Linked DNA regions of Homo sapiens. The protein of the gene in region 4 purifies or fractionates together with the protein of the main gene of each other region. This does not show direct contact. Each region holds a gene or a part of one and is shown on either strand. Other genes may lie near its edges.

Evidence for each region.
Region 1: the proteins of GINM1 (region 4) and PDZD11 purify together in Homo sapiens (affinity purification with mass spectrometry; 3 studies listed by BioGRID and IntAct, with this or other methods). This does not show direct contact.
Region 2: the proteins of GINM1 (region 4) and VAMP7 purify together in Homo sapiens (affinity purification with mass spectrometry; 3 studies listed by BioGRID and IntAct, with this or other methods). This does not show direct contact.
Region 3: the proteins of GINM1 (region 4) and GCFC2 purify together in Homo sapiens (affinity purification with mass spectrometry; 3 studies listed by BioGRID and IntAct, with this or other methods). This does not show direct contact.

What each region holds. Positions count from the first base shown.
Region 1 is NC_000023.11:70,286,904-70,294,450, reverse strand, and holds the start of PDZD11 (PDZ domain-containing protein 11), read left to right. Parts: upstream 1-4,523; 5' UTR 4,524-4,591; exon of another isoform or gene 4,592-4,622; intron 4,623-4,829; exon of another isoform or gene 4,830-5,013; coding exon of another isoform or gene 5,014-5,109; coding exon 5,110-5,196; intron 5,197-5,937; coding exon 5,938-6,021; intron 6,022-6,277; coding exon 6,278-6,334; intron 6,335-6,620; coding exon 6,621-6,719; intron 6,720-7,114; coding exon 7,115-7,175; intron 7,176-7,334; coding exon 7,335-7,369; 3' UTR 7,370-7,547. Other genes in the region: chromosome-associated kinesin KIF4A, read right to left, coding at 3,646-3,760, 3,873-3,992. UniProt on the Homo sapiens protein: Mediates docking of ADAM10 to zonula adherens by interacting with PLEKHA7 which is required for PLEKHA7 to interact with the ADAM10-binding protein TSPAN33.
Region 2 is NC_000023.11:155,933,328-155,940,351, forward strand, and holds part of VAMP7 (vesicle-associated membrane protein 7), read left to right. Parts: intron 1-6,373; coding exon 6,374-6,466; intron 6,467-7,024. UniProt on the Homo sapiens protein: Involved in the targeting and/or fusion of transport vesicles to their target membrane during transport of proteins from the early endosome to the lysosome. Required for heterotypic fusion of late endosomes with lysosomes and homotypic lysosomal fusion.
Region 3 is NC_000002.12:75,707,905-75,715,338, reverse strand, and holds the start of GCFC2 (intron Large complex component GCFC2), read left to right. Parts: upstream 1-4,423; 5' UTR 4,424-4,483; coding exon 4,484-4,748; exon of another isoform or gene 4,749-4,895; intron 4,896-7,434.
Region 4 is NC_000006.12:149,583,367-149,590,390, forward strand, and holds part of GINM1 (glycoprotein integral membrane protein 1 precursor), read left to right. Parts: intron 1-7,024.

The DNA.
Region 1 (7,547 bases), on a different chromosome or scaffold from region 4:
ATAATAAATGATTGTTACTAGTTTATGTGTTTAGTATACTATACCATACTTTTTATCATTTTTAAGAGTATACTCCTTCTACTTATGATAAATAAAGTTAACTGTAAAACAGCCTCAGGCAGGTCCTTCAGGAGGTATTCCAGAAGAAAGTATTGTTGTCATAGGAGATGACAGCTCTATGGATGTTATTGTCCCTGAAGACTTTCCAGTAGGACAAGACGTGGAGGTGGAAGACAGTGATATTGAAGATCCTGGCCCTGGGTGGGCCTAGGCTAATGTGTATGTTTGTGTCTTAGTTTTTAACAAAAAGTTTAAAAAGTAAAAAAATATATTTTTTTAAAAAGAAAAAAGCTTACAGAATAAAGATGCAGAGTGAAAATGTTTATTCCGCTGTGCAATGTATTTGTGTTTTAAGCTAAGTATTATTACAAAAAAGTCAAAAAGATTTAAAAAATTAAAGTTTATAAAGTAAAAAACGTATAATAAGCGAAGGTTAATTTATGATTGAAGAAAGACACAAAGTTTAATAAATTTAGTGTAAGCTAAGTATCCAGTGTTTATAAAGTCTACAGTAGTATACAATAATGTTTTAGGCCCTTACATTCACTCACCACTCATCACTGACTCACTCAGAGCAACTTCCAGTCCTGCAAGCTCCATTCACGGTAATTGCCCTATACGGGTGTATCAGTTTTTACCTTTCATACTGTATTTTTACCTCACCTTTTCTATACTTAGATCACAAATATTTTCCATGATGTTACAACCGCCTACAGTATTCAGTACAGTAACATGCTTTGCAGGTTTGTAGCCTAGGAGCAGTAGGCTCAGGTGTATAGGAGGCTATACTATCTAGGTTTGTATACATGCACTCCACCATGTTCATACAATGACAAAACCGCCTAATAATGCACTTCTCAGAAGGTATCCCTGTCGTTAACTGATGCATAATTATAACTTGCTACTTAATTGTACAGTAGTAGCTTCTAAAACTATAAGCATGGCACCTAAAAGGAACTACAAATGCAAATTTACTTCAAGGTGAAAAAAATAATGACCTTAGGGAAGTCTGTTCCTTATTAGTGTGGCAGACATGTTGTCAAGGAACACAAAGCAAGCTTTCTCTGTTAAATGATCATCATATTTATGTCAAAGCTGTTATCTGCTATTTACCAAGATAATTTTGCAGTCTGAAGGAAAAAACCCTTTAAACTTTGAAACAACGTTTTAATCTAAATGAAAACTTTGAAGTTTTGAAAAAACTTGTTGGTCTAAATGAAGGATCATAAGAAGATGCTAAATTGAGATTTTCACTGTAATAGACCGCTGGTATCAGCTGGCATGACTATGGGGCAAGAGAATAACATTCCATAATTTTCTGCAATACCACAGATATGTGCAGATAGCAATAACTTGGGAAATGAGGTTTTAGTAGTTTTTACAAAATACTTAGGGCTCTGTGGTACCAGGAGTTCAGAGTACAAGAGGGTGCTGTTGAGCTGACTATAAAAAATATTGACTTTGTTTTTGCAACCAAGGGTAATGTTAAGCAAACACATGTATATTGGAATCACTTTCTACTTTATGTTGCCTTTAAAGAACATAATTTAATTCTATCAGTTTCCCAAGTTAAGAATGTAAAAGTAGAACTGTGGTGCTCTTACTAAGCTGTGGAGGTATAGCCTGAGGAATCTGACCAGATAGTGCAGGGTCTGAAAAGCATATTGTTTCAGGAATGGCTAAAGGAAAGGCGGGGATAATTGAAGAGAATTAGGTAGAAACACTTAACGGTTTTCCAAATACTGTATGTAAAAAGGAAAAAGATTATAGTGGAGAAGCCCAGCAGATTAACACCTTAATCAAATGATCAAAATGAACATCAGTAGTAATAGAATAAATCAAAATCATGTGCTGCCCAATAGGCTTCAGTGAGAAGAAAACAGCACCACTTCTGTGATATTCCTGCTAAAAGATACACAACCTGAATCTAATCATAAGTAAATGCCAGACAAAACAATATTGAGAAAAGGTTTACAAAATAACTGGCCTGTAATCTTCAAAGTGTCAAACTCATAAAAGTCAAAAAAAGACTAAAGAACTGTTTTAGAATGGAGACTAAAGAGACAGCAAAACTAAATAAAACGTGATTTTGAACTAGATCTTTTTGCCATAAAATATTTACTGGGACAATTGGTGAAACTTGAATGGGGTTTCAGGAATAGATGGTAGTAATGTAGCAGTGCAAATTTTATTGTTTTGATGGTTGTATTGTGGTAACTTAGAAGAAAGTCCTTTTTTGTAGGAAATATACACTAAAGTATGGGGGGTTATCAGGCCAATGATTCATCTCAAATGGTTCAGGGAAAAAATGTTTTTTATGCTGTTCTTGCAACATTCTATACGTTTGAAATTATTGCATTAATATCTTAAAATTTTGAAACAAAAATTTCAGTGTTCCTTGAGCCATATCATTAAACAAAAAAACGTGAAAAAATATGTGAATAGCTGTTGCCTAGAAGAAGGCTTCTAAAGGAATGAACTAACATCACTGGGTAGAAATTACCAGGAAGCAAATTTCATCTCATTATAAAGATCTTTATAACATAATTAGACTTGTCCAAAACCCAAATCTCAACTGGACTACCTGTGAGTCAGTGAGTTCCCTGTCAAAAAAATTTTAGACACTGGCAGTTCACCTAACAGATATTGTTAGAACGCATTTTTCTTTGGATGAAAAACAAACTAGATGATATACAAATGTCTCTTTCAACTTTAAGGCACTAGCATGCCATGATTCTACTTCTTTTAAACGAACCTCTGTTTTGAATCTTGAATAACCACTGTATTAGAATAATAATTAGACATCTCTCAGGCACTGCTCCCTTCTTTAGAACCCTGCTATGGTCCTCAACAGCATTAAAGACTTAGCTTCCCCAGTAAAGATTATTAACTGGTGATAGTATTCAGAGGCTTTAGGCACTCCCCTTCTCCACCTAAAAGAAGTATACTCATTATTCAAGACCCATCTCAAAGTTTTCCCACTCTGTGAAATTCACCCCAAATTCCCCAAGCAGAGTTAGAGCCATCCTTTTGTTTTTCATACCACTTTGTATGAGAGCAGAGCTACTACTTCCATAGGACTGACTCTGTTGTATATTTTTAACTTGAAAAATTTTTCTTCTAAAAGATAGGTACAAAAAATTTAAAAATTTTTATATATTCAAAATTATTTATGTAGTCATCTATCTCCATTCCTATCCCCTGGACTTTGAACTCCTTCAGGGCCTCGAAGCTATATTATTTATCACCTGAATCCCTCAACAAGCTTTGCAGTGCCTGGGCCTCAAGTAGGTTGGCACACTTATCACCATCAGCAACCACCACAGAGTTTATAATCTAATGAAGTTCCAGGATAAACAAACATATACAAGTCAAAGATGAACAGAACCACATAAAGCAAATACAGAATAAAACTAGCTTCAAGGGTACAGAGACGTTGACAAATGTTATTAGGCTAAGGGCTTCTTGAAGGCAGGAATCATGATTCATCGATTCCTGTATTTGCAGTGCCCAAGCACAGTGCTTGGCACATAGTATATGCTCAAGGAATATATATGTTACGTTCGAGGAATCAAATCGCCTTACCTTTAAATACACCTTTTATGAGTGGCGCTACTGCTGTATTGAAGACTTCTTCCTGTTCAGTAGAGGGATCAAATACAAAATCGTAGGTGAAGGATTTATCTGTACCAACCACCACCTAGAGAAGGCACGGGACAAGGCGTAAGGTTAAAAATGAAAGGCAAGACCACACCCCTCGTTACCATTTGGCCCCAGCTGTTCAGACACAGGCTCTGGACTCTGCTACGCACCTGAGGCTCTCCGGGCACGAAGGAAAGGCACATCTGGCAGCCCTCGCTAATCTCTTTGGGGACCAGAGGGCGACAACGCAGCGCCACTCTTACGGGAATTCCCTTCACCTCTTCCTTCATGATCCTATCTCAGCACCGTCTCTGCGAGGGGGAAAAAGAAGGCTCGCTGATGAATGTTAGTAGGTCAGCAGGGGTGGGAGGGCGTCCTCCCCGGTTCCGACCCTCCTCAGCGGGAACACTGACTTGGGAGATTCACGCTCCATGACTTGGCCAGGGCTGGACCGCCCGTCAGCCCTGCACTCTAAAGAGAGTGCACGGGCTTCTGAAAGGCAAAGAAAAAACTCCAACGGGGACGGCGACAAAGAACCAAAGCCCTAGGGTACTGGGTAAAAACAGGTTCTGAGCTAAGGTGTGCCCCCGTAACTCACCAAACTAAATGTCCCTTCCCCGTTCTCCCTGGGCCTCCCGCCGCCCTGTCCCAGCCGGAGCTTTAACCGCCAAGTTTCAAATCCGTCCCGGAGACGCCAACCAATTGCAGTGCGGACTGCCCGAGGGCGGAGCGCGCACGTCGGCGCGCGCAGGCCGGCGCGGTGGGAAGGGGAGGGTCAGCTCGTTGCACCCTGGCCCGGCCTCTTTTCGACCCTGCGGAGCATCCGCTTCCGGTTCCCAGACTGAATTGTCAGTGAGCGGAGTCTGAGGTCGCTGTGGACTGCCCACTGGTGAGGTGGTGCGGCGTTTATGCGGCTGAGAGTGCGGGTCTCAGGCAGAATGTGGGGCGGGGACGTGGGAGGTGGCTGGTCAGGTGAAGGAAGGGTCGATCTAAGGACCCTACCATTACTAATCACATCTAGGAAATGTGGGGCGGTGCCTTGCCCCGAGTCCCTGCGGATAGTTAACACTCCCTTGGGCTTCGAAAGTAGATCTTTTTAGACTCGACCCTGATTTCCTCTTCTCCAGGTTTGAGACGGTAACATCTGTTTTGCAGGATTGTGAAAAATGAGGTCCTCTTTCTAGAGTACCTGACAGGTTGCTTGGCATCCAGAAGATGTTTAGCTAAGTTAAGAGTTTTCTTCTGTCTTCCTTCTCTCCTCCAACCTTAACACCTAGATATGGGCTGGGCCTGTAGACTGACTGCCTTGGAATGGGTTGGAGCTGCTGTCTGAAACTTGCTGGGCTGCTCTCCCTTTTGAACCACTTTTTGTCTGTTCTGATTCACTCTTCCAGGGCCTTGCCCGAGATGGACAGCCGGATTCCTTATGATGACTACCCGGTGGTTTTCTTGCCTGCCTATGAGAATCCTCCAGCATGGATTCCTCCTCATGAGGTGGGAACCATCTGTATTCCTGAGTAGGAGATTTTTTTCCCCGTGGGCATGAGATGATGCATGAAAGGTAGGATAGCAGGGTTAGAAGGCGAAACGGAGAGTGAATCTTAGCACTTGTAGCCAGAGGACCCAGAAGCTGGATTCTGAGCAACAGGACCCATTGGGAACTTCTTTATGGAAGCCTCCTGCTAGGGTCTGTTCACACCGGTTAATTCTGGAAATTTGGAGCCTTCATTTCCATACTGTTAAGAGGTTCAGCGCGGTGGCTCATGCCTGTAATCCCAGCACTTTGGGAGGCCGAAACAGGCGGATCACCTGAGGTTGGGAGTTCGAGACCAGCCTGACCAACATGGAGAAACCGCGTCTCTACTAAAAATACAAAATTAGCCGGGCGTGGTGGCACATGCCTGTAATCCCAGCTACTAGGGAGGCTGAGGCGGGAGAATTGCTTGAACCTGGGAGGCAGAGGTTGCGGTGAGCTGAGATTGAGCCATTGCACTCCAGCCTGGGCAACAAGAGCAAAACTCCATCTCAAAAAAAAAAAAAAAAGGTGAAGAAATGGGGAGCTACTGGGCTGCCCCAGTGCTATCCATCTACTCATTTAGTCTGTGTTATCTGTTCTACTTAAATTAAGTCTATGACCTTTCCTTTTCCTGACTTCAGGGTAATTCATTAGTGTTTCAGATGAAGGTAGGTGTGAAGTAAGACTGGTAAAATTTCTGGGGTTGCTGTGTCTTGCAGAGGGTACACCACCCGGACTACAACAATGAGTTGACCCAGTTTCTGCCCCGAACCATCACACTGAAGAAGCCTCCTGGAGCTCAGGTGAACTTATGAAACCTTATTTCAGGCTAGATTCATCCATACCACAAATTGGCAGTGTTGGGGGGATGGATTGGAAAGCAGGTGCAGATGTGAGGAAACTTTCCTTCTTGTGGACAGAAAAGCTGAGATAACACTTCTGCAACTTCTGACTTTCCTCTCAGGGACACACAAGCTGAGCTATTGTACGATGATGCTACTAGTTGTTCTTGTGTTTGTGGTCTCCATTGAGCCCCCATTCTGTGCTCTTGTCTTACAGTTGGGATTTAACATCCGAGGAGGAAAGGCCTCCCAGCTAGGCATCTTCATCTCCAAGGTATTTATGCCCAGTAGGCAATATGGATCGTTACTTCCCTTTGTTAAATTAACAGATTGCAGAACCCTAATGTCCCAAGGGCTGAGAGGATGACTCTGGATTCATAGAAGGGGTATAATGGAGACACCCCCTTTCCCACTTAAAACTTTTCATTTGGCAGGCCATCTGTCTGCATACATTGTCACAGAAAAACAATAGCACCATACATTTGAATAGCACCGAATTTCACTGACAGTCTTCTGAAATTATCGCATCCCAATCACATGTATTCTCTCTTTACCAACAGGTGATTCCTGACTCTGATGCACATAGAGCAGGACTGCAGGAAGGGGACCAAGTTCTAGCTGTGAATGATGTGGATTTCCAAGATATTGAGCACAGCAAGGTGAGCACAGTACTTGGGCTGTGGTGCTGCAAGAAGCCATCTCAAATAGGACAGATTGGACAGGAGTAGCCTAATCTGTAACTTAATAAGAAAGCATTTTGCTGGGCACTGTGGTACACGCCTGTAATCCCAGCTACTTAGGAGGCTGAGGCGGGAGGATCACTTGAGCCCAGGAATTTAAGACCAGCCCAGGCAACGCAGCAAGACCCTGTCTCAAAACAAACAAACAAACAAACAAAAAGAGAGAGAGAAAGTAAGCACCTCTCCTGGGAAAGTACAGGAGGGAAGCAGCTATTAGTGACACACAGGTTGGAGTGGCAAATCCCTTTCCCCCTATTATGATTCTGTCTTGGGTCATATCTCTTCATTTGTACAAGCTGCTGTGTTCCTTCCAGGCTGTTGAGATCCTGAAGACAGCTCGTGAAATCAGCATGCGTGTGCGCTTCTTTCCCTACAGTAAGTGCCACTTTCTTTTTTCACTTTCCTGACAGGGCCCTAAGTAAGAACTCTTTAAATACTGATGACTAGAGGCCCTACAAGTTGGGGATAGGGAATCAGGAGCTCAAGCGTGAAGATAACCTGCTCTGTTCCTCCTTTTCTTCTTCTTTCCTTCAGATTATCATCGCCAAAAAGAGAGGACTGTGCACTAGAAAGTTGCAGCCCACAGCCCTTCATGTGGACTCTGTCATGACATGCTAACTAGACTTCAGGGGAGCCACTTCTGTTTTCAGCCCCTCCCTGGAATAGTGAGTTGGGAGGATGGGGAGACAGCTAACCAACTGCATTACCCAAACCATATTGCACTTTTAGTTCCCTAGTTTTCTAGGT
Region 2 (7,024 bases), on a different chromosome or scaffold from region 4:
GGTCCTGGACTTTTTTTGGTTGGTAAGCTATTAATTATTGCCTCAATTTCAGAGCCTGTTATTGGTCTATTCAGAGATTCAACTTCTTCCTGGTTTAGTCTTGGGAGGGTGTATGTGTCAAGGAATTTATCCATTTCTTCTAGATTTTCTAGTTTATTTGTGTAGAGGTGTTTGTAGTATTCTCTGATGGTAGTTTGTATTTCTGTGGGATCGGTGGTGATATCCCCTTTTATCATTTTTTATTGCGTCTATTTGATTCTTCTCTCTTTTCTTCTTTATTAGTCTTGCTAGCAGTCTATCAATTTTGTTGATCTTTTCAAAAAACCAGCTCCTGGATTCATTGATTTCTTGAAGGGTTTTTTGTGTCTCTATCTCGTTCAGTTCTGCTCTGAGTTATTTCTTGCCTTCTGCTAGCTTTTGAATGTGTTTGCTCTTGTTCCTCTAGTTCTTTTAATTGTGATGTTAGGGTGTCAATTTTATATCTTTCCTGCTTCCTTTTGTGGGCATTTAGTGCTATAAATTTCCCTCTACACACTGCTTTAAATGTGTCCCAGAGATTCTGGTATGTTGTGTCTTTGTTCTCATTGGTTTCAAAGAACATGTTTATTTCTGCATTCATTTCGTTATGTACCCAGTAGTCATTCAGGAGCAGGTTGTTCAGTCTCCATGTAGCTGAGCAGTTTTGAGTGAGTTTCTTAATCTTGAGTTCTAATTTGATTTCACTGTGGTCTGAGAGACAGTTTGTTATAATTTCTGTTCTTTTACATTTGCTGAGGAGTGCTTTACTTCCAACTATGTGGTCAATTTTGGAATAAGTGCGATGTGGTGCTGAGAAGAATGTATATTCTGTTGATTTGGGGTGGAGAGTTCTGTAGATGTCTGTTAGGTCCGCTTGGTGCAGAGCTGAGTTCAATTCCTGGATATCCTTGTTAACTTTCTGTCTCATTGATCTGTCTAATGTTGACAGTGGGGTGTTAAAGTCTCCCTTTATTATTGTATGGGAGTCTAAGTCTCTTTGTAGGTCTCTAAGGACTTGCTTTATGAATCTGGGTCCTCCTGTATTGGGTGCATAAATATTTAGGATAGTTAGCTCTTCTTGTTGAATTGATCCCTTTACCATTATGTAATGGCCTTCTTTGTCTCTTTTGATCCTTGCTAGTTTAAAGTCTGTTTTATCAGAGACTAGGATTGCAACCCCTGCCTTTTTTTGTTTTCCATTTGCTTGGTAGATCTTCCTGCATCCCTTTATTTTGAGCCTATGTGTGTCTCTGCACATGAGATGGATTTCCTGAATACAGCACACTGATGGGTCTTTACTCTTTATCTAATTTGCCAGTCTGTGTCTTTTAATTGGAGCATTTAGCCCATTTACATTTAAGGTTGATACTGTTATGTGTGAATTTGATCCTGTCATTATGATGCTAGCTGGTTATTTTGCTCGTTAGTTGATGCAGTTTCTTCCTAGCCTTGATGGTCTTTACAATTTGGCATGTTTTTCCAGTGGCTGGTATGTGTTGTTCCTTTCCATGTTTAGTGCTTCCTTCAGGAGCTCTTGTAAGGCAGGCCTGGTGGTGACAAAATCTCTCAGCATTTGCTTGTCTGTAAAGGATTTTATTTTTCCTTCACCTATGAAGCTTAGTTTGGCTGGATATGAAATTCTGGGTTGAAAATTCTTTTCTTTAAGAATTTTGGATATTGGCCCCCACTCTCTTCTGGCTTGTAGAGTTTCTGCCGAGAGATCAGCTGTTAGTCTGATGGGCTTCCCTTTGTGGGTAACCCGACCTTTCTCTCTGGCTGCCCTTAACATTTTTTCCTTCATTTCAACTTTGGTGATCTGACAATTATGTGTCTCGGAGTTGCTCTTCTCGAGGAGTATCTTTGTGGCGTTCTCTGTATTTCCTGAATTTGAATGTTGGCCTGCCTTGCTAGGTTGGGGAAGTTCTCCTGGCTAATATCCTGCAGAGTGTTTTCCAACTTGGTTCCATTCTCCCCATCACTTTCAGGTACACCAATCAGACGTAGATTTGGTCTTTTCACATAGTCCCATATTTCTTGGAGGCTTTTTTCGTTTCTTTTTATTCTTTTTTCTCTAAACTTCTCTTCTCGCTTCATTTCATTCATTTGGTCTTCAATCACGGATACCCTTTCTTCCAGTTGTTCGAATCGGCTACTGAAGTTTGTGCATTCGTCACTTAGTTCTCGTGCCATGGTTTTCAGCTCCATCAGGTCATTTAAGGACTTGTCTACATTGGTTATTCTAGTTAGCCATTCATCTAATCTTTTTTTCAAGGTTTTTAGCTTCTTTGTGCTGGGTTCAAACTTCCTCCTTTAGCTCAGAGAAGTTTGATCATCTGAAGCCTTCTTTTCTCAACTCGTCAAAGTCATTCTCTGTCTACCTTTGTTCTGTTGCTGGTGAGGAGCTGCGTTCCTTTGGAGGAGGAGAGGCGCTCTGATTTTTAGAATTTTCAGTTTTTCTGCTGTTTTTTTCCCTATCTTTGTGGTTTTATCTACCTTTGGTCTTTGATGATGGTGACATACAGATGGGGTTTTTGTGTGGATGTCCTTTCTGTTTGTTAGTTTTCCTTCTAACAGTCAGGACCCTCAGCTGCAGGTCTGTTGGAGTTTGTCGGAGGGCCACTCCAGACCCTGTTTGCCTGGGTATCAGCAGCGGAGGCTGCAGAACAGTGAATATTGCTGAACACCAAATGTTGCTCTCTGATCGTTCCTCTGGAGGTTTTGTCTCAGAGGGGTACCCGCCGTGTGAGGTGTCAGTCTGCCTCTACTGGGGGGTACCTCCCAGTTAGGCTGCTTGGGGGTCAGGGACCCACTTGAGGAGGCAGTCTGTCTGTTCTCAGATCTCAAACTCTGTCCTGGGAGAACCACTACTCTCTTCAAAGCTGTCAGACAGGGACATTTAAGTTTGCAGAGGTTTCTGCTGCCTTTTGTTCAGCTATGCCCTGCCCCCAGAGGTGGAGTCTACAGAGGCAGGCAGGCCTCCTTGAGCTGTGGTGGGCTCCACCCAGTTCGAGCTTCCCGGCAGCTTTGTTTACCTACTCAAGCCTCAGCAATGGCGGGCGCCTCTCCTCCAGCCTCGCTGCCACCTTGCAGTTCAATCTCAGACTGCTGTGCTAGCAATGAGTGAGGCTCCGTGGGTGTGGGACCCTCTGAGCCAGGCGCGGGATATAATCTCCTGGTGTGCTGTTTGCTAAGACCGTTGGAAAAGCGCAGTATTAGGGTGGGAGTGATCCGATTTTCCAGGTGCCATCTGTCACAGCTTCCCTTGGCTAGGAAAGGGAATTCCCTGACCCCTTGTGCTTCCCGGGTGAGGCGATGTCTCGCCCTGCTTCGGCTCACGCTCGGTGGGCTGCACCCACTGTCCAACAAGCCCCAGTGAGATGAAGCCGGTATCTCAGTTGGAAATGCAGAAATCATCCGTCTTGTGCGTTGCTCACGCTGGGGGCTGTAGACTGGAGCTGTTCCTATTTGGCCATCTTGGAACAGGAATCAAAGGAAATTTTTTAAAAATCCCATTTATGATAGCATCAAAAAGAGTACAATAGTTAGGAATAAATTTAACCAAGGATGTAATAATGTGCACACTGAAAATTATAAAACATTGATGAAAGAAATTCAAGAAGACACAAATCAATGGAAAGATACCTTATGTTTATGGATTGGAAGAATCAATATTATTAAAATGTTCATACTGCCTGAAGCAATACACAGATTCAACACAATCCCTATTGAAATTCCAATGGCATTTTTCACAGAATAGAAAAAAAAATTCTAAAATGTGGATGAAACTAGAAGACATTATATTAAGTGAAATATACTAGACACAGATAGATAAATACTGTATGATTTCACTTATATATGGAATCTAAAAAAAATGTTCAGTTCATAAAAGCAGAGAGTAAAACAGTGGTTGACAGTGGGTGGGAGACCTGGAGAGATGTTGGTCAAAGTGTATGAACTTACAGTTGTAAGATGAATAAGTTCTGGATACCGGACATACAGCATGGCAACTATAGTTAATAATAATGTATTGAATATTTGAAATATGCTATAAGAATAGATCTTAAGCATTCTCACCACATACCCAAAAAAGTAACTATGTGAGGTGATGGATATTTTACTTAGCTTGATTGTGGTAATAATTTCACAATGTGTACATTTATCAGAATATCACATTGTATACCTTGAATATATACCATTTTTATTTGCCAATTATACTTCAAGGCAGAAAAAAATAAAATTAGAGTAGAAACAAAAGCTTGGAGGTCTGAAATGTTACTAAAAGTGTAACATTTTCCTTTTTTCAATATTCTTGCCACATGGTGGGTAGGTCCTTTTAGTCTGAAGATTCAAGTCTGTCTTATTTGGGGGATATTTTCTTCAATTAGTCCCTTGATTATTGATCCTTCTCTTTTGGCTGTATTCTCTCCTGTGACTGCTAATAGGTGTGTAAATCAGTACCAGGCACATAATAAGCACATGTTAAATATCTGTTGATCGTATAAATTGATCCTGGATTTGCTTGATCAGTTTTCCGTGTATCTTACATCTTCTTTCATGATTTACAACCTAGACATTTTGCTGTTTTCAGAACAAATTTTTTGAATTGTTACTGCAGAAGCTGCTTTTGCTCATTTATGTTCTGCTTTTAAAAAATTATGCCATTTTATTAAAATATAGTTTTTGGAATGTTGTCATGTTATCTAATTTTTTATGTCCTCTGATGACTTTGTTTAAAATTAGTTCAATTATGTCTTGTATCTGAGGATACTTATTAGAAATTTTTTTATTACTGTTATTCTATCTTGTTTCCCATATTAACTTTGTTCCATTAAGGACTGTTTGTCCCCATTGCTTTTTTTGTCTCCTCACTTTAACTGCTGTTTCTTCTCAAAAGTTCTAGTCAATGCATATATTCTATTCAACATATATATTTAGCTCTAGATGTAATCAGTTTTGGTATGTGCCTCCAGGTGGCATCCTGTGCAGTCTTCATGAAGTGAAACCCAAAGACTGGTGCCCCTGTCAGTTGTTCTACTGCAGAGACTTTGTGGAGTATGTGGTTGGAGATGAATCTATGGTTAAGGGAGTGGATTTTTTAAAACCAATATGTGAAGTATAATATACATAAAGTGCATCAACTGTAAGCATACAACTTGTTGTGTTTTCACAAAGTAAACATACCATGTAGAACCAACACCCAGATTAAGAACTAGAGCACGAACAGTACCCCAGAAGCTCCCTTCTCCCTTCTTTTAGTCACTACTCTTCTCCAAAGGTGGCCACTGTCCTGATTTCTCCACATAGATTAATAAAACATAGCAGGGGCCGAGAGTGGTGGCACACACCTATAGTCCCAGCTACTCAGGAGGCTGAGGTGGGAGGATCGTTTGAGCCCAGGAGGTCAAAGCTGCAGTGAGTCGTAATTGTGCCACTGCACTCCAGCTTGGGCGACAGAGCAAGACCCTGTCTCAAGATAAATAATAAAATATAGCAGGTATTCTGTTTATGTCAAGTTTCTATTGCTCAAAATGATGTTTGTGAGATTCATCTGTGGTAAATTGTATAAATGTAGTAGTAGATTGTGAATTGTCATTACTGTATTGTATTCCATGTTATGACTCTCCTGTAATTTATGCATTGCACAGTTGATGGGCATTTGGGTGGTTTCCAGTTTAAGGTATGAAAAGTAGTGCTGTCCAAAACATTTTTTTATATGTCTTTTGGTGAATTTGCATACATCTGTGGGACCATACCAGAGTGGATTGCTGGATTATTAGGGAGTTTTGTTGGTTGGTTGTTTGCCATTTTGTTTTAAACTCCTTGTGTCCTGGTGGGAATTGTTCAGTAGATACTGAGAAATTGATGATGCAAAAGAAAATGGATAGCAGAAGGAATGAAGTTCTATGGGTTTTGGCCCTCACAAAAGTAAATACATATCTTCCTACAGAAATCAAACAGGTTTTTATGGCTCAAAGCCCCGGAATTATACGGGGCAGAATAGGCGAATGTGCTTGCAGTCAGCTGGCTTTAAAAGAGCCTTTCTTATTGGAAGTATAGAGAGGAAAATTCTTTTCCACTAGCGGGAAGAACCACTTCTGGTGCTCAACATCATGTGCATTGCTGCAGTGGAGAAGAAAAAAGAGGGAAGCGTTTTCATTGGGCTCATACTGCTTATGATAGGCCTGGCAGAGTCTTGCTTTTGGCAACTATTGAGTATGAATGGCCAGTCTCTACTTGTAAAGAGAGGTCATTGGACTTAAATGGAATTAATGGAAGTAAAATGTTCTCAGGTTGTTACTGCAAATCATTCATGTAGTCAGTGCCAGGGGTTAAACAATTCTCGCCTCTTTTCTAGTCTGTCACCTTCAAAACTACCAGCAGAAATCTTGCTCGAGCCATGTGTATGAAGAACCTCAAGCTCACTATTATCATCATCATCGTATCAATTGTAAGTTTTTGTCCTTTTAGTGTATGGCTTTATTTTTCAATCTCTAAGAAATTAGGTACTAGAATTATTTCTCAATGATTAACACTCTGAAATGAGCTACATATGTCTTTTAATAGTGAAACACATGACCAGGCAGTGGCTTTCCTATGAAGTCACTATGAAATATCTCTACTTAAACCCCTCCTTCCTATTGAGAATTATTATATATTCTCAATAGGAAGAGATCTATAAAACTGACCTCACAGAAATGTAGTTATTTTAAATAAAGACATTTCTGGTTTATATGTAATGGGTTTATTGTTTTTATTTTTAAATTAATTATGTATTTTTAAAGTTTTAATTTCTAATATGGCAAATGCTGATAATTATAATCCCCCTTAAACAAGAACTCTTTGGAGTCCTCAGTAATTTTTGAGTGTGTAAAGAGGTCCTAAACCACAACTTTAAAAACTATTGCTAACAGGTGGGGGGTGCTTTACCCTGTTCATGGTCAGATAAAGTTGCCTTTCCTCCCCATCCTCCAGTCATGTCCAGAAGCCCAAAGTTACCTCCAAGCAG
Region 3 (7,434 bases), on a different chromosome or scaffold from region 4:
TTATCTGAATTTCAAGTTTTACCAGGTATTCTATATTTTTTCTAAATCTGGCAACTATCCCTCAGAGTCATCGCTCTGCTTTCCCTGGGGACAGAGGAGAAAACTCAGGATTCCTCCCCCTTTATTAAATAAGTTATCTTTATTTCATCCTCTCCCACCAAGGCAACACCCAGAGAAAATAATTTTTCTCACTTCTTTCCCTTAGAACAAATGTTTGATTTCTGTTTTAAATAGCAGAGTTTTTTCTATCTCCATCATATATCACCTATCTCTTAACATGTTTGCATTTAACAAGTTAGAGTGACTTGTTTTCCAGTTTTATTTTCGTGAGTGAACACAGATGTTTCAGAATTGCCTCATCCAACCATTTAGTTCATTGTGTTCATGTCAGTTGTGCACTAAACACTAAACTAGGTATAGGATATCAAAATGAGTAAAAGAAGGGCTCTGTCTGGGGAGGCAGTGTCTTTTAAAATGGGAAAGTAAACAATGAGTCCACATTAGCAGATGGCTCTGAACTCAGCCGAGAACAGTAAACTCTGCCTAGCGTTTTCACATTTTGGTTTAACATCGTTTGTGAGTTAGTGACTTTTGAAGGGAAAGAACAGCCTTCTAGAACACCAACATCACACTTAGATTGTCCTTAAATAAACTGCTGCCTTTTAAGCAACACTGGGAGTGAATTCTGTCCTGCTGACCCCCTTTCCAATTGCAACAAACACCTAAAATGACTTTGGAAGCTGGCAGAGAACCCTTTTTGAGGAGGTGCAGACAGATATCCCCTTATGGTGAACAACTTCTACACTTAAATAACCTTACTCACTTTGAATAGATTCTTATTAGTTTTCCTTTTGGGGGGCTATTTAGGTTTCTAAATTTTGAGGTACCTAACATTTACATGCTGTTACAATCTGATATGAAGTTCATCAATGATTAAGTTATTTAGACTATTTTTTAAGACTTCTTTTTTTTTTTTGGAGATGGAGTCTCACTCTGTCACCAGGCTGGAGTACAGTGGTGCGGTCTCGGCTCACTGCAACCTCCGCCTCCTGGGTTCAAGTGATTCTTCTGCTTCAGCCTCCCAAGTAGCTGGGATTACAGGCATGCACCACCACGCCCGGCTAATTTTTGTATTTTTAGTAGAGATGGGGTTTCACCATGTTGGTCATGCTGGTCTTGAACTCCTGACCTCGTGATCTGCCCACCTCGGCCTCCCAAAGTGCTGGGATTACTGGCGTGAGCCACTGCGCCCAGCCTTCTTAAGGGTGATTAATACTTAGTATCTGCTCTAGGACCTTGCTATTTAGAGTGATCCTCAGACAAGTATCCTCGCCTTCACCTGGGAGCTTGCTAGAAATGAAGACTCTTGGTTCCTACACATAGCAGCTCAATCAGTATCTATATGTCCACACTATTTCCATGTGCTTTGAAGAACATTAGATTTGATAAGCATTAGTCTAGGGCTTAGCATGGTGCCTGTGCTAGTAGGTGTATAATAAACACTGATTGAATTGTACGATATATTAATATGTTTCCTTAAGAGTGCATAACAGAACACTGAATTTCTCTCCAATTACAATCACGATCATCTTCCTCATTCTCCTCACTGTTTCAAAATGCTAGTCTTAGCTGGGCATTGGGGTATGCGCGTGTAGTCCCAGATCCTCAGGAGGCTAAGGTGGGAGGATCACTAAGCCCAGTAGGTCAAGGCTGAAGTGAGCTGTATTTGCACCATCGCACTGGGTGGCAGAGCGAGACTCTGTCCATAAAATTAACTAAACTAAAAATTATAGTCTCCTGTTTGGTTTAGCATTAACTACTTTATAGTGTAATTTGGAAAGATGTCCTCCTCTGCTAAGGGAGTACAGAGCAGTATCCATGGCAGAACTTGGGAATTCTGCATGGAAAGATGGCATCTGAAAAGCACTGGACCGAACGGAACCCACTTCTCCATCTCCAATCTTTAAAGTTTATTCTAACTACAAGGAGCACTTGGTCCATGATAGGAAGCTGTTCTTTCAGATGCCACAAGTATCTCTATTCTCCAGAAATATCTTTTTCACACCATTTGCCAATTTTCCAAAAGAAACACACAAAAAAACAAGTAGTTCTCTAATTTTACCTGGATTTAAAAAGAGAAGCCTCTCTTTATAATAAGACATTAATAACTTGTGAATAACTGATAATACTGTATCATATAATTTCCCAAATTTACATCAAGGAGTTTCAGTTTATTGAGAAAAGCCAAGAAAAAAAGACAAAGCCAAGAAAAAAAAATTCCGGGGCTAGGTCAATCAGAGAAACTTTGCCTCTTCTCGATTCCTTTGGTGACATATAGTCAGTGATACAATGGTAAATGTTTAATGACTGGATATCTGGGAGAAACACCTGGACTTCTAAGGTCTTCCAATTTATATGGTATAAGTAGTCCCTTTATGGCTGATTTCAAGGTGCCAATATTGTGTCCGGAATTGGTGGGTTCTTGGTCTCACTGATTTCAAGAATGAAGCTGCGGACCCTCGCGGTGAGCGTTACAGCTCTTAAGGTGGCGCGTCTGGGGTCTGCCCCTTCTGATGTTCAGATGTGTTTGGAGTTTCTTCCTTCTGGTGGGTTTGTGGTCTCGCTGGGCTCAGGAATGAAGCTGCAGATCTTCACGGTGAGTGTTACAGCTCATAAAAGCCACGTGGACCCAAAGAGTCAGCAGTAGCAAGATTTATTGCAAAGAGCGAAAGAACAAAGCTTCCACACTGTGGAAGGGGACCGGAGCGGGTTGCCACTGCTGGCTGGGGCAGCCTGCTTTTATTCTCTTATCTGGCCCCACCCACATCCTGCTGATTGGTAGAGCCCAGCGGCCTGTTTTGACAGGGCCGTGATTGGTGCGTTTACAATCCCTGAGCTAGATACAAAAGTTCTCCACATCCCCATCAGATTAGTTAGATACAGAGTTTCCACACACAGGTTCTCCAAGGCCTCACCAGAGCAGCTAGATAGAATGTCTATTGGTGCACTCACAAACCTTGAGCTAAACACAGGGTGCTGATTGGTGGGTTTACAAACCTTGAGCTAGATACAGAGTGCCGATTGGTGTTTTTACAATCCCTGAGCTAGACATAAAGGTTCTCCAAGGCCCCACCAGAGCAGCTAGATACAGAGTGTCGATTGGTGCACTCATAAACCTTGAGCTAAACACAGGGTGCTGATTGGTGTGTTTACAAACCTTGAGCCAGATACAGAGTGCTGATTGGTGTATTTACAATCCCTGAGCTAGACATAAAGACTCTCTATGTCCCCACCAGACTCAGGAGCCCAACTGGCTTCACCTAGTGGATCCCGCACCGGGGCTGCAGGTGGAGCTGCCTGCCAGTCCGGCGCCGTGCGCTCGTACTCCTCAGCCCTTGGGTGGTCGATGGGACTGGGCGCCGTGGAGCAGGGGGTGGTGCTCGTCGGGGATGCTCGGGCAGCACAGGAGCCCATGGAGTGGATGGGAGGCTCAGGCATGGCGGGCTGCAGGTCCCGAGCCCTGCACCGCGGGAAGGCAGCTAAGGCCCGGCGAGAAATCGAGCACAGCGCCGGTGGGCCGGCACTGCTAGGGGACCCAGTACACCCTCTGTAGCCGCTGGCCCGGGTGCCAAGTCCCTCACTGCCCGGGGCTGGCAGGGCCGGCCGGCTGCTCCGAGTGCAGGCCCGCCAAGCCCATGCCCACCCGGAACTCCAGCTGGCCCGCTGTCACCTCTCAATATGACGCCACTAAACATGGAGTTGATAACAGGTGTGCAGTAGCTCAACATTATATAGTATTTCTACCATACAGATACAGTAGTAGACAGAGCTTGATGAATATAGAACAAATTTGCGTCAGACAATAGCTTTTTGTTTTTAGATAGTTTCTTTAAGGGTGAAAACATTTAACCAGGCTCTCTTGAAGCCCTGCTGCCTGGGGGAAGTCATTTGATTTTTGCTAGTCTGTATGCATTGTTTATGTACAGACTTTATGGTTTTGTTCTCAAAGGCATCTCCTCCTACCCCGAGCCTCACACTGCTGGGGTTTCGTTTGTTTTAAATCTTGGTTGGAGGGGGCACTCTCTCCAGAAAGTAAAAGACAACGGATCTGGCTCCAGTCCAGGACGGAAAGCATAACGCTTGATTTCTGGATGGGGTTTGCACAAGGACAGCACGTGAGTTCTGCTCTCCGTGGGACTCAGACCGGATAGGCCGTGAAAATCTCTAAGGTGTCAGTCCACGCAACCTAACCTGGCAAAGGGAATGCTTTGCAAACTCAGGCCCCAGAACAGAACTCGGCCTACCAGATCCAGGGAGCCAAAGCACGCAGGCGCAGACAGAGTAGCGGTGAGCAGAAGGCAGGCGGGACGGGCGCGCGCACTCGGCGGCCAGGCGCGGCGGGAGCGCGCCCTAGGGGGCGGGCACTGAAGCTGCGGCTTGCGGTTCAGCGGGTTCTAGGGCGCCGGGCGCTCGGGCCTCGGCCATGGCTCACAGGCCGAAAAGGACTTTTCGGCAGCGCGCGGCTGATTCCAGCGACAGCGATGGCGCCGAGGAGTCGCCTGCTGAGCCTGGGGCGCCGAGGGAACTTCCGGTCCCGGGTTCTGCGGAGGAAGAGCCGCCCTCTGGAGGAGGCCGCGCGCAGGTGGCGGGACTGCCCCACCGGGTTCGGGGCCCTCGTGGCCGGGGCCGGGTCTGGGCGAGCTCCCGGCGTGCCACCAAAGCGGCTCCCCGCGCGGACGAAGGCTCAGGTGTCCAGGGAGACGCGGGGAAGCGGGGAGGTGACGGCACAGGGCGGGAAGGGGCCGCGGGGTCTCTGGATCCTTCTCTGGGGGTTCTATAACTTGCTGCCGACCACAAGCCATGCTGAGTCTTATCCAGAAAGACTTATCCAGAAGGTAGTGAGCGAGAAAATAGCTCGAGCACTTGCCCGCTATCTGCATCTGCCTTTTGGACTCCTTGGGGGAAATAAAACAATCGTGTACAGTTGGGAGGCTCTTCGTTTTCACCATCAGTTGACTCCATCAGTTATAACTAACACAGTTATCAAAGTTTATGAAGAACCTAAACTGTCACAACAAAGTTCAATAATTTATAATACTATTAAGTGGGCAGAAGTTATATGTACCTTTTAGACACTTGACCAACTTATCTTTCTTGAAAACATTTAGCCAGAGTAGTACAGGAATCTAGGTTTTGGGACATTCCCCTTTGTTTATTTTCTTTTTTCACCAGTTATTTGCAAAAACTAATAGTAATATATACAACACAAAGAAGCATGATAGAGATTCATGACACTGTAGATGGTACCAGTAATGGTGTTAGATATAGTGTCGTCATTTTGAAGTACCTTTGAGTTCTTAAATACAGGTGTAAGGCAGCATAAAGTTGTTTAAATAAAATGTGCTGCTCTGAGTTGGAATTGTAGCTTAATGAGGAATACGGTTTTTGGTTAGTCTTGAGAGCTAAAATCTTCCTATTATTTTTTATTGTCATTAAAGTGATTTTTATTAATTTATTGAGAAGTAAAAAATGTATATACTTATAGTGTACAACATGATGTTTGAAATGTGTCTACAGTGACTAAATGGAGCTAATTAACATTTGCTTTACCTTAGGTACTTACTTTTTTTTGTGGTGAGAACACTTACTATCTACTCTTACTAATTTTCAAGTATGCAATGCATTGTTATTAATTTTAGTCACCGTGTTGTAGAATAGAATTCCTCTTGTCTAATTAAAATGTGTGCCCTTTGACCAGTATCTTCCCAACTACCCTCAACCTCACTCAGTCCCTTCTAACCACTACTCGACTCTCTGCTTCTGTGATTTCTGATTTCCACTTTTTTAGATTACATATGTGAGATCATGTGGTGTTTGTCTCTCTGTGCCTGTCTTATTTCATGTAACATAATGTCCTCCAGGTTTATGATCTTCGTGATTTCTTGGTCTTTCTTGTGACCTTCTATTTGTCTAAAGTTTTCATGACCTTTTATATTTGTTTTCTGGTTAAACTTTGTAGATGAAAGTTGAAGTCAGGAGTTCCTTTTCTCTTGCCTTCTAGAATAGTGGTTCTCAAACTCTTTGGGAATTGGACCTCTTTTAGACTCTTAGAAATGATTAAGGATTCCAAAGAGCTTTTGTTTCAGTAGGTTATACCTATCAATATTTATCACACTAAAAATAAAATTTATTAATTCACTTACAAAAAATCTATTACATGTAAGGATAAGTAAGATTTTTGTGAAAAGTATTACCCCAAAAAAGGAAGAGTAGCATTGTTTTCAATTTACAGATCTCTTTAATGTCTGGCAAAATATTAATAGAAGACAGATGAATTGTCATAGGTGTTTCTGCTTTTAATCTCTTGTGCTATTTTGTTTTGGTTGAAGTATTTGAAGAAAATACAGCCTCTGACAGATACATGATTAAGACGAGTACTTAATAGCATTTTTAGATCATTGAGGGTGTTGTGCTTTAATATAACACAGCTCAACAAGTAATAAACTAACCCTTCTTAAAAGTTAGTTGCGGGCCGGGCACAGTGGCTCACACCTGTAATCCCAGCACTTTAGGAGGCCGAGGCAGGTGTATCAAGAGATCAGGAGTTCGAGCCCAGCCTGGCCAACATGGTGAAACCCCATCTCTACTAAAAATACAAAAATTAGCCAGGCATGGTGGTGGGTGCCTGTAATCCCAGCTACTCAGGAGGCTGAGGCAGAGAATCACTTGAACCCGGGAGGCAGAGGTTGCAGTGAGCTGAGATTGTGCCACTACACTCTAGCCTGGGTGACAGAGTGAGACTTTATCTCAAAAAAAAAAAAAAAAAAAAAAAAAAAAGTTGCCAAATGGATTCTTAAACCATATGATTAAATTTGGGGTGCTCTTACCTTAAAACTCTGTTCTGTTTTGTACTTTGGATCTTTTACTCATGAACGATTGGTAACATCTTGCATTATTTGGAAGGTATTCATTAGCTGAGTTTGCAGATCTTGCAAATGTTGGAGCATTTTATTGTACAATACCAAAAAAATCATAGTATTACCACTGATTAATCAGTCTGTAAGTACTGGAAAGCTGTTAGGTTCACAGTAGAGAATATAAGTTTTCCAAAATCTCAATTTTCACTTGAAATCTCTCATTTTATTGATAGGCACAACCGGGCTCATGTTTTGAGAAAATGTTTGTCAGATAGCCATGTCTGAATAATCGGTTTGTTAGTCATTCTTTCAAGTAAAATGGTGATGCTTCTTAAAAACAACGTCTAGTTCAGCTTGCAACTCAGTCACACAAATGCTTTTCCTTAAGGCAGCCATTGCATTTCAAGATGCAGCAAAAGTGCCTTATGAATACTTTGATTTTGTCACAAAGAATATTAAACATGTGTACTCAAGGGTCAAAATTTAATAAAATAACAATTTTTTAATTAGTTCATGA
Region 4 (7,024 bases):
GCAGGAGAATCACTTGAACCTGGGAGGCAGAGGTTGCAGTGAGCCGAGATTGCACCACTGCACTCCAGTCTGGGCGACAGAGTGAGACTTCATCTCAAAAAATAAAAATAAAAACTAGCTGGGCGTGTGGCACCCATCTGTAGTCCCAGCTTCTTGGGAGGCTGAGGCAGGAGAATCGCTTGAACCCGGAAGGCGGAGGTTGTGGTGAGCCGAGATCGCGCCATTGCACTCCAGCCTGGGAAACGAGCAAAACTCCCTCTCGAAAAAAAAAAAAAAAAGTAAAAGCAAAATAAAAGCCCTCTTAACTGTATATCAGTGAGGTCTAATGAGATTTTCTCTGGCTGAATAAGTCCAAAATCTATTATGTGGGGGGAAATATGGCAAAGCAGTATGATCACATTTAGGTAAAACAAAAGTATTATGTGTATATAAATGCATAGAAAATTTCTGGAATGAGAAAACAAGTTATCTCTAATGAGTGGGAATGAGAGCAGAGGTGGAGAGACTGACTTTGACTTCCTTTTGTATATTTTTTAGTCAAAAATTATAAAATTTAAAATGAATTATTGTTAGTATTTTTTCAAGTTAAATCAGTCGTTTTATTTTATTTTATTTTATTTATTTATTGAGATGGAATGTCACTCCATCACCCAGGCTGGAGTGCAGTGGCATGATCTTGGCTCACTGCAACCTCCGCCTCCTGGGTTCAAGCGATTCTCCTGCCTCAGCCTCCCGAGTAGCTGGGATTACAGGCATGCGCCACCTTGCTTGGTTAATTTTTGTATTTTTAGTAGAGATGGGGTTTTTCCACGTTGGCCCAGCTGGTCTCGAACTCCTGACCTCAGGTGGATCAGGTGGATCACGTCTCGGCCTCCCAAAATGCTGGGATTACAGGCGTGAGCCACTGCACCTGGCCCATTAGTCATTTTAATTATCTTAACAGAAACAAATCTCAATGCAGATGACCACAGTTCTTGGCTTAGCTACATTGCATTATACTGTTATGTAACAGGATTTTTGGAAAAGAAGACCTAATTTGAACATTTACTTTTCCACTTGCTTGTTGTGAGGTCTTTGAACCTCCGACTTCTTCAGGTGTAATGATGAACTAATGCCTCCCTTGAAGGATTGTTGAAAGTCAAAGTCATGAAGCAAGCAAAGCACCTGCAGAGTAAAGAAATATTAGTTGCCCCTCCCACCTCTTAGTTTACATTTCCACTGAATTGGCATTCCCATTCCTTTCTGATATAGAAATATCCTTATCCAAAATGCTTAGAACCAAAAGTGTTTCAGATTTCAGATTTTTTTGGAATTTTGAACATTTGCATTATACTTACTGGTTGAGCATCCTCAATCCAAAATCCAAAATGCTCTTGGGAGCATTTCCTTTGCATATATGGAAATATATATATAATACTTGTATATATTTTATATAAATATTTATAAATGTATATATATATAGAGAGAGAGAGAGAGAGACACGGGGATCTTGCTATGTTGGCTAGGTTGGTCTTGAACTCTTGGCCTCAAGTTGTCCTCCTGCCTTGGCCTCCCAAAGTGCTAGGATTACAGGTGTGAACCACTGTGCCTGGCCAAGCATTTTCTTTAAGTATCATGTTGGCACTCAAAAAGTTTTGGATTTTGGAGCATTTTGGATTTTGGATTAGGGATGCTTGACCTGTAATAAAAATTCTGTAGTTTAACAGATTTCTTTCCCCTTTGGCTGCCAGGAAGTTCCAAACTTTTTTGAACTTTATTATGTATACCTGCATAGAAAACGGTGTTGTAATGTTTTTCTTTTTCTTTTGCCATTGTTTTGTTATGGGTTTCTCTGCAGGAACAGATGCAATATAAAATTAAAAACCAAATTTGCAGTTGTACTGCAGATACTTCCTGGTAGAAAAGGATTTAATACAGAACTATAGAGAGCAATGAACTGAAAGTATCCCTTCTCTGTTCTTCAATTCTTATTCTACCTAGAGGTAGTCATTGTCAACTGAGTTGACATTTTTAATCCAAATTCTATGTATTAATGTAAATGTACACTAGATAATCATAATTGTTTATCAACTCAGATTGTTAATTGTTCTACATTGCATTTTTCACTTAAGACACAGGTTTCCCAAACTTTCTTGGTTTACAGTATCCTTAGTGTGCCAGTAAATTTTTTTAATGCCCCTATACTTAGGCCAAAAGACAAATATAAAGATTTTTATTTTTATTTTTTATTTATTTATTTATTTTGAGACAGAGTCTCACTCTGTCGCCCAGGCTGAAGTGCAGTGGCACAATCTCGGCTCGCTGCAAGCTCCACCTCCCGGGTTCATGCCATTCTCCTGCCTCAGCCTCCCGAGTAGCTGGGACTACAGGCACCCACCACCACGCCCAGCTAATTTTTTGTATGTTTAGTAGAGACGAGGTTTCACTGTGTTAGCCAGGATGGTCTTGATCCCCTGACCTCGTGAGCCCCCTGCCTTGGCCTCCCAAAGTGCTGGGATTACAGGGGTGAGCCACCGCGCCCAGCAATTTTGTTCTTAAATTACTAATTTAAGAAATACTAATGGGATGTGAGTGCCTATAGAGCACTACACAATACCTCATATCTTGGCATCAGACTGGAAATTGGCATCCTCATTTCTTGTTCAGTGTTAGTTTTGTACAGTATTTGCTTTTTATCATAGTAACCACCTGTGTTAAGCCATTTTGTGTTGCTTATAAAGTAATACCTGGGCTGGTTACTTTATAAAGAAAAGAGGTTATTTATTTAGCTCATGGTTCTGCAAGAACCGTGTAGGCTGTACAAGAAGCATGGTGCTGCCATCAGCTGGGCTTCTGGTGAGGTCCTCAGGCTGCTTCCACTCAGCAGCTTCGCAAGGCAAAGCATGTGCAGAGATCACATATCAAGAAAAGAAGCAAGAGGAACAGCAGGGGGGTGTCAGGCTCTTTTTAACAACCAGGTCTCCAGGGAATGAATAATGAGAACTCATTCCCTTCCCCTCCAGAGAGGGCATTAATCTGTTCATGAAGGATCTGTCCTCATGGCCCAAACACTTCCTATTAGGCCACACCTCCAACATAGGGGATTAAATTTTAACATGAGGTTTGGAGGGGAAAAACTTTCCAAATCTAGCACCACCAAAACCCAGCTTTGGAAAGATTGACTTCATTGAATGTTTTGCAATCTAATGTTAAAAGCATGAAGTAACCTCAAGGTAATATTACACATGAAGTCTCTTGAAAATTTATATTATTCTGTGGTGCCTCTGTGAGTTTGCTCACCAACCCAGGGACCTCAGTGCAGTTTGGGAACCATAGACCTAAGATCTTTTCTTATCACTACATATATTCTTTTTTGTCCCCTTAGTTATTTTAATTCTATTTTATTTTTTATTACTTATTTTTGAGACAAGGTCTCACCTTGACACCCAGGCTGGAATGCAGTGGCTCAGTCATGGCTCACTGCAGCCTCAATCTCCCAAGACTCAAGTGATCCTCTCACCTCAATCTCCCAAGACTCAAGTGATCCTCTCACCTCAGCCTCCTGAGTAGCTAGGACTAAGGTGTGTGTCACCATGCCCAGCTAATTTTTTTAATTTATTTTTTGTAGAGGCCAGGTTGGCCCAGGCTGGTCTCAAACTCCTGGGGTCAAGCAGTCCTTCCACCTTGGCTTCCCAAAGTTCTGGGATTACAGGCATCAGCCACCATGCCCAGCCCTTAATATTATTTTTAACTGACATGTCATAATTATGTATAGCTTACCTATTCTTTTTATGGCTGCATAGTTCTAAAGGAGATAGGAAAAACCAAAGCATAGGAAAAATACTTTGGTTTTTCCTACTCTGACACTCTGGAGTACTTCACGTTTGGGCACCAATACGTGTGTGGGGATTTTTCACCACCAATAACTAATTCTCCAGTGGACACCAGCTGGGTGTCCTCTAATTCAGTTCAGTTCTGACACTTTCCACCTGGACACAGCGTCAGATCCCACAGGCTAAGGGCTTAGTTCCACAAGACTGCCCCCCTTCAGATGCCAGTTGTAAGCCCCAGGTTGTGATGTGTGATTCTGACCAGCTGGGTATAAAGAGGTTGCCATGACTTCCTCTTTGGGTTTGATTAATTTGCTTGGGACGTCTTTGGGGCGGCTCACAGATCTCAGGGAAACACCTCCACTTACTGGTTTATTACAAAGGAAACATGAAGAGGCAGATGGAAGAAGTGCATAGGGCAAGACATGGGGAGGGGGAGAGGGGTTCAGAGCTTCCCTGCCCTCCCTAGGTGCACCTCTATCCAGGTCCCATACCTCTGTGTGTTCAGCTATCCAGAAGCTCTCCAAAGCTAGTCCTTTTGGGTTCTTTTGCAGGTTTCATCACACAGGCATGATTGATTACATCATTGGTCACTGGTGATCAACTCAACCTTCAGTACCCCGTTCCCTTCCCCAAGGTTGGGGGATGGGACTGATCTCATGGTTGATACCCCTGGCAACCAGCTCCCCTGTTGAGGCTATCCAGGATCCCCCAGCCATCAGTCATCATTAGCATCCAAAAGATACTTACCACTTTGGAGATTTAAGGATTTTAGGAGCTGTTCCAGGAAGCCAGAGGAACTTACAAGTCATAATATCACAGGTGTTCCACAGTATAGATATACCTTAATATAACCATTCCTCTAACATTTAGGTAATTTCCAATTTCATGTTAATCCCAATAATGTTCTAGTATACATCCTTGCACATATATTTCTTTGCACATGTGTATTTATGTAGAATAGATTCCTAAAAGTAAAATTACTGTGTCACAAGTAATTGTATTAACTCCTTACAACCTGATGATAATCTTTTTTGGTTTTGCTACTAAAAATATAATTCATCTTAATTTGCATTTTCATCTTACTAGCATCTTTGCTAGTTTAGGTCTGGGTGGGTTCAACATCTTTGTGATAATTGGCTATATATGATTCTCTCATGACTTGCTTACGTAGAGCCTCTGGCCATTTTTCAATTGTGTTGGCATTTTGTAACTATTAGTATATAAGAGCTCTTTTGTCTGTTATACATATGTAATGCACATTGCAGATTTTTTTACTAATCCCAGCCTATCGTTTGTCTTTTGCTTATTTATGGTATCTCATCATACAAAAGCTTTAAATTCAAGGCCTAAGTAATTCATGTTATTCCTTTACAGCATGTAGGGTTTTTATTTTGCCTACTAAGTAGGCCAGACTTTCCTATCTTAAAATTATGGGGCTTTTTTTGTTTGTTTTTTGTTTTTTAAAGACAGGGTTTTGTTCTGTTGCCCAGGCTGGAGTACAGTGGCAGTGCTATCAAGGCCCACTGCAGCCTTGACCCTCCTGGGTTCAAGCGATCCTCCTGCCTCAGCCTCCCAAGTAGCTGGGACTACAGGCACTTGCCACCCTGCCTGGCTAATTTGTTGTTGTTGTTGTTGTTGTTGTTGAGACACAGTCTTGCTCTGTTGCCCTGGCTGGAGTGCAGTGGTGTGATCTTGGCTTGCTGCAACCTCCACCTCCTGGTTTCAAGCAATTCTCATGCCTCAGCCTCCTGAATAGCTTGAGATTACAGGCGCCCGCCACCATGCCTGGCCAATTTTTGTATTTTTAGTAGAGATGGGTTTCACCATGTTGGCCAGGATGGTCTCGAACTCCTGACCTCAAGTGACCCACCCGTCTCGGCCTCCCAAAGTGCTGGGATTGCAGGCGTGAGCCACCGTGCCCAGCCATTTTTTTAAAAAAAATTTATTTTGTGTAGAGACAGGGTCTCACTATGTTGCCCAGGCTGGACTCCTTGGGCCCAAGCAGTCCTCCTGCTTCAGCCTCCAAAGGTGCTGGGATTACTAAGGGCATGAGCCACTGTGCCCAGCCATTATATTTTCTTAAAATTTATTTATTTATTTATTTATATATTTGAGACAGAGTCTCGCTTTGTTGCCCAGGCTAGAGTGCAGTGGCACAATCTCTGCTCACTGCAACCTCAACTTCCCGGGGTCAAGAGATTCTCCTGCCTCAGCCTCCCGAGTAGCTGGGATTACAGGCGTGCACCACCACAGCCGGCTAATTTATGTATTTTTAGTAGAGACAGGGTTTCACCATGTTGGCCAGGCTGGCCTCGAACTCCTGACCTCAGGTGATCCACCCACCTCAGCCTCCCAAAGTGCTGGGATTACAGGCATGAGCCACTGCACCCAGCCAAAATTTATTTTTTAGCATTACTTTTCTGTATACTTTTAAAGCTAGAGTTCTCATTTTGTTTCCCAGACAGAGGCCATTTTTCCATTAGTAATTTATCATTGACTTAGAATGTTACCTTATTATAAACTAAATTTCCATATATGTTAGTCTTTTTCTGGACTGTTTTCTGTCCTAGTGATCTATTTGTCTATTCCTGTGCCAGTAGCACAGTTTTAATTACTCTCATGTTTTGTTTTTGTTTTTGAGACAGGGGCTAACTTTGTCACCCAGGCGGCAGTGCAGTGGCACGATCTCGGCTCACTGCAACCTCCACTTCCCGGGTTCAAGCGATCCTCCCACCTCAGCCTCCTGAATAGCTAGCTAGCTGGGACTGCATGTGTCCCATGCCCAGCTAATTTTTTCTATTTTTAGTAGAGATGGGGTTTTGCCATGTTTCCCAGGCTGATCTTGAACTCCTGGGCTCAAGTGATCTGCCCGCCTTGGCCTCCCAAAGTGCTGGGATTATAGGTGTGAGCCCCTACACCTGGCCTACTATCATGTTTTAATAAAACCTTTGAGAGCTACTTAAGACAACTTTGTCTTCTCCCCATTGTTCTTTTAAAAAAAATCTTATGGCTGTTCTTGCAGTTACTCCCCTGTGAACTTTAGAATCTGTTTGGTTCTATAAACAACTAACCCCCGTTGATGTTCTTATTAGAATAACACTGAATTTACAATGCAGGGTCCTAGATTCAATCCAAAGACGTACTCTCTGGTCAGGGATTTTAAGTAACAAAAAGAGCAACACTATCTAAAGACCTAAGGTTGTGTTGTGGTG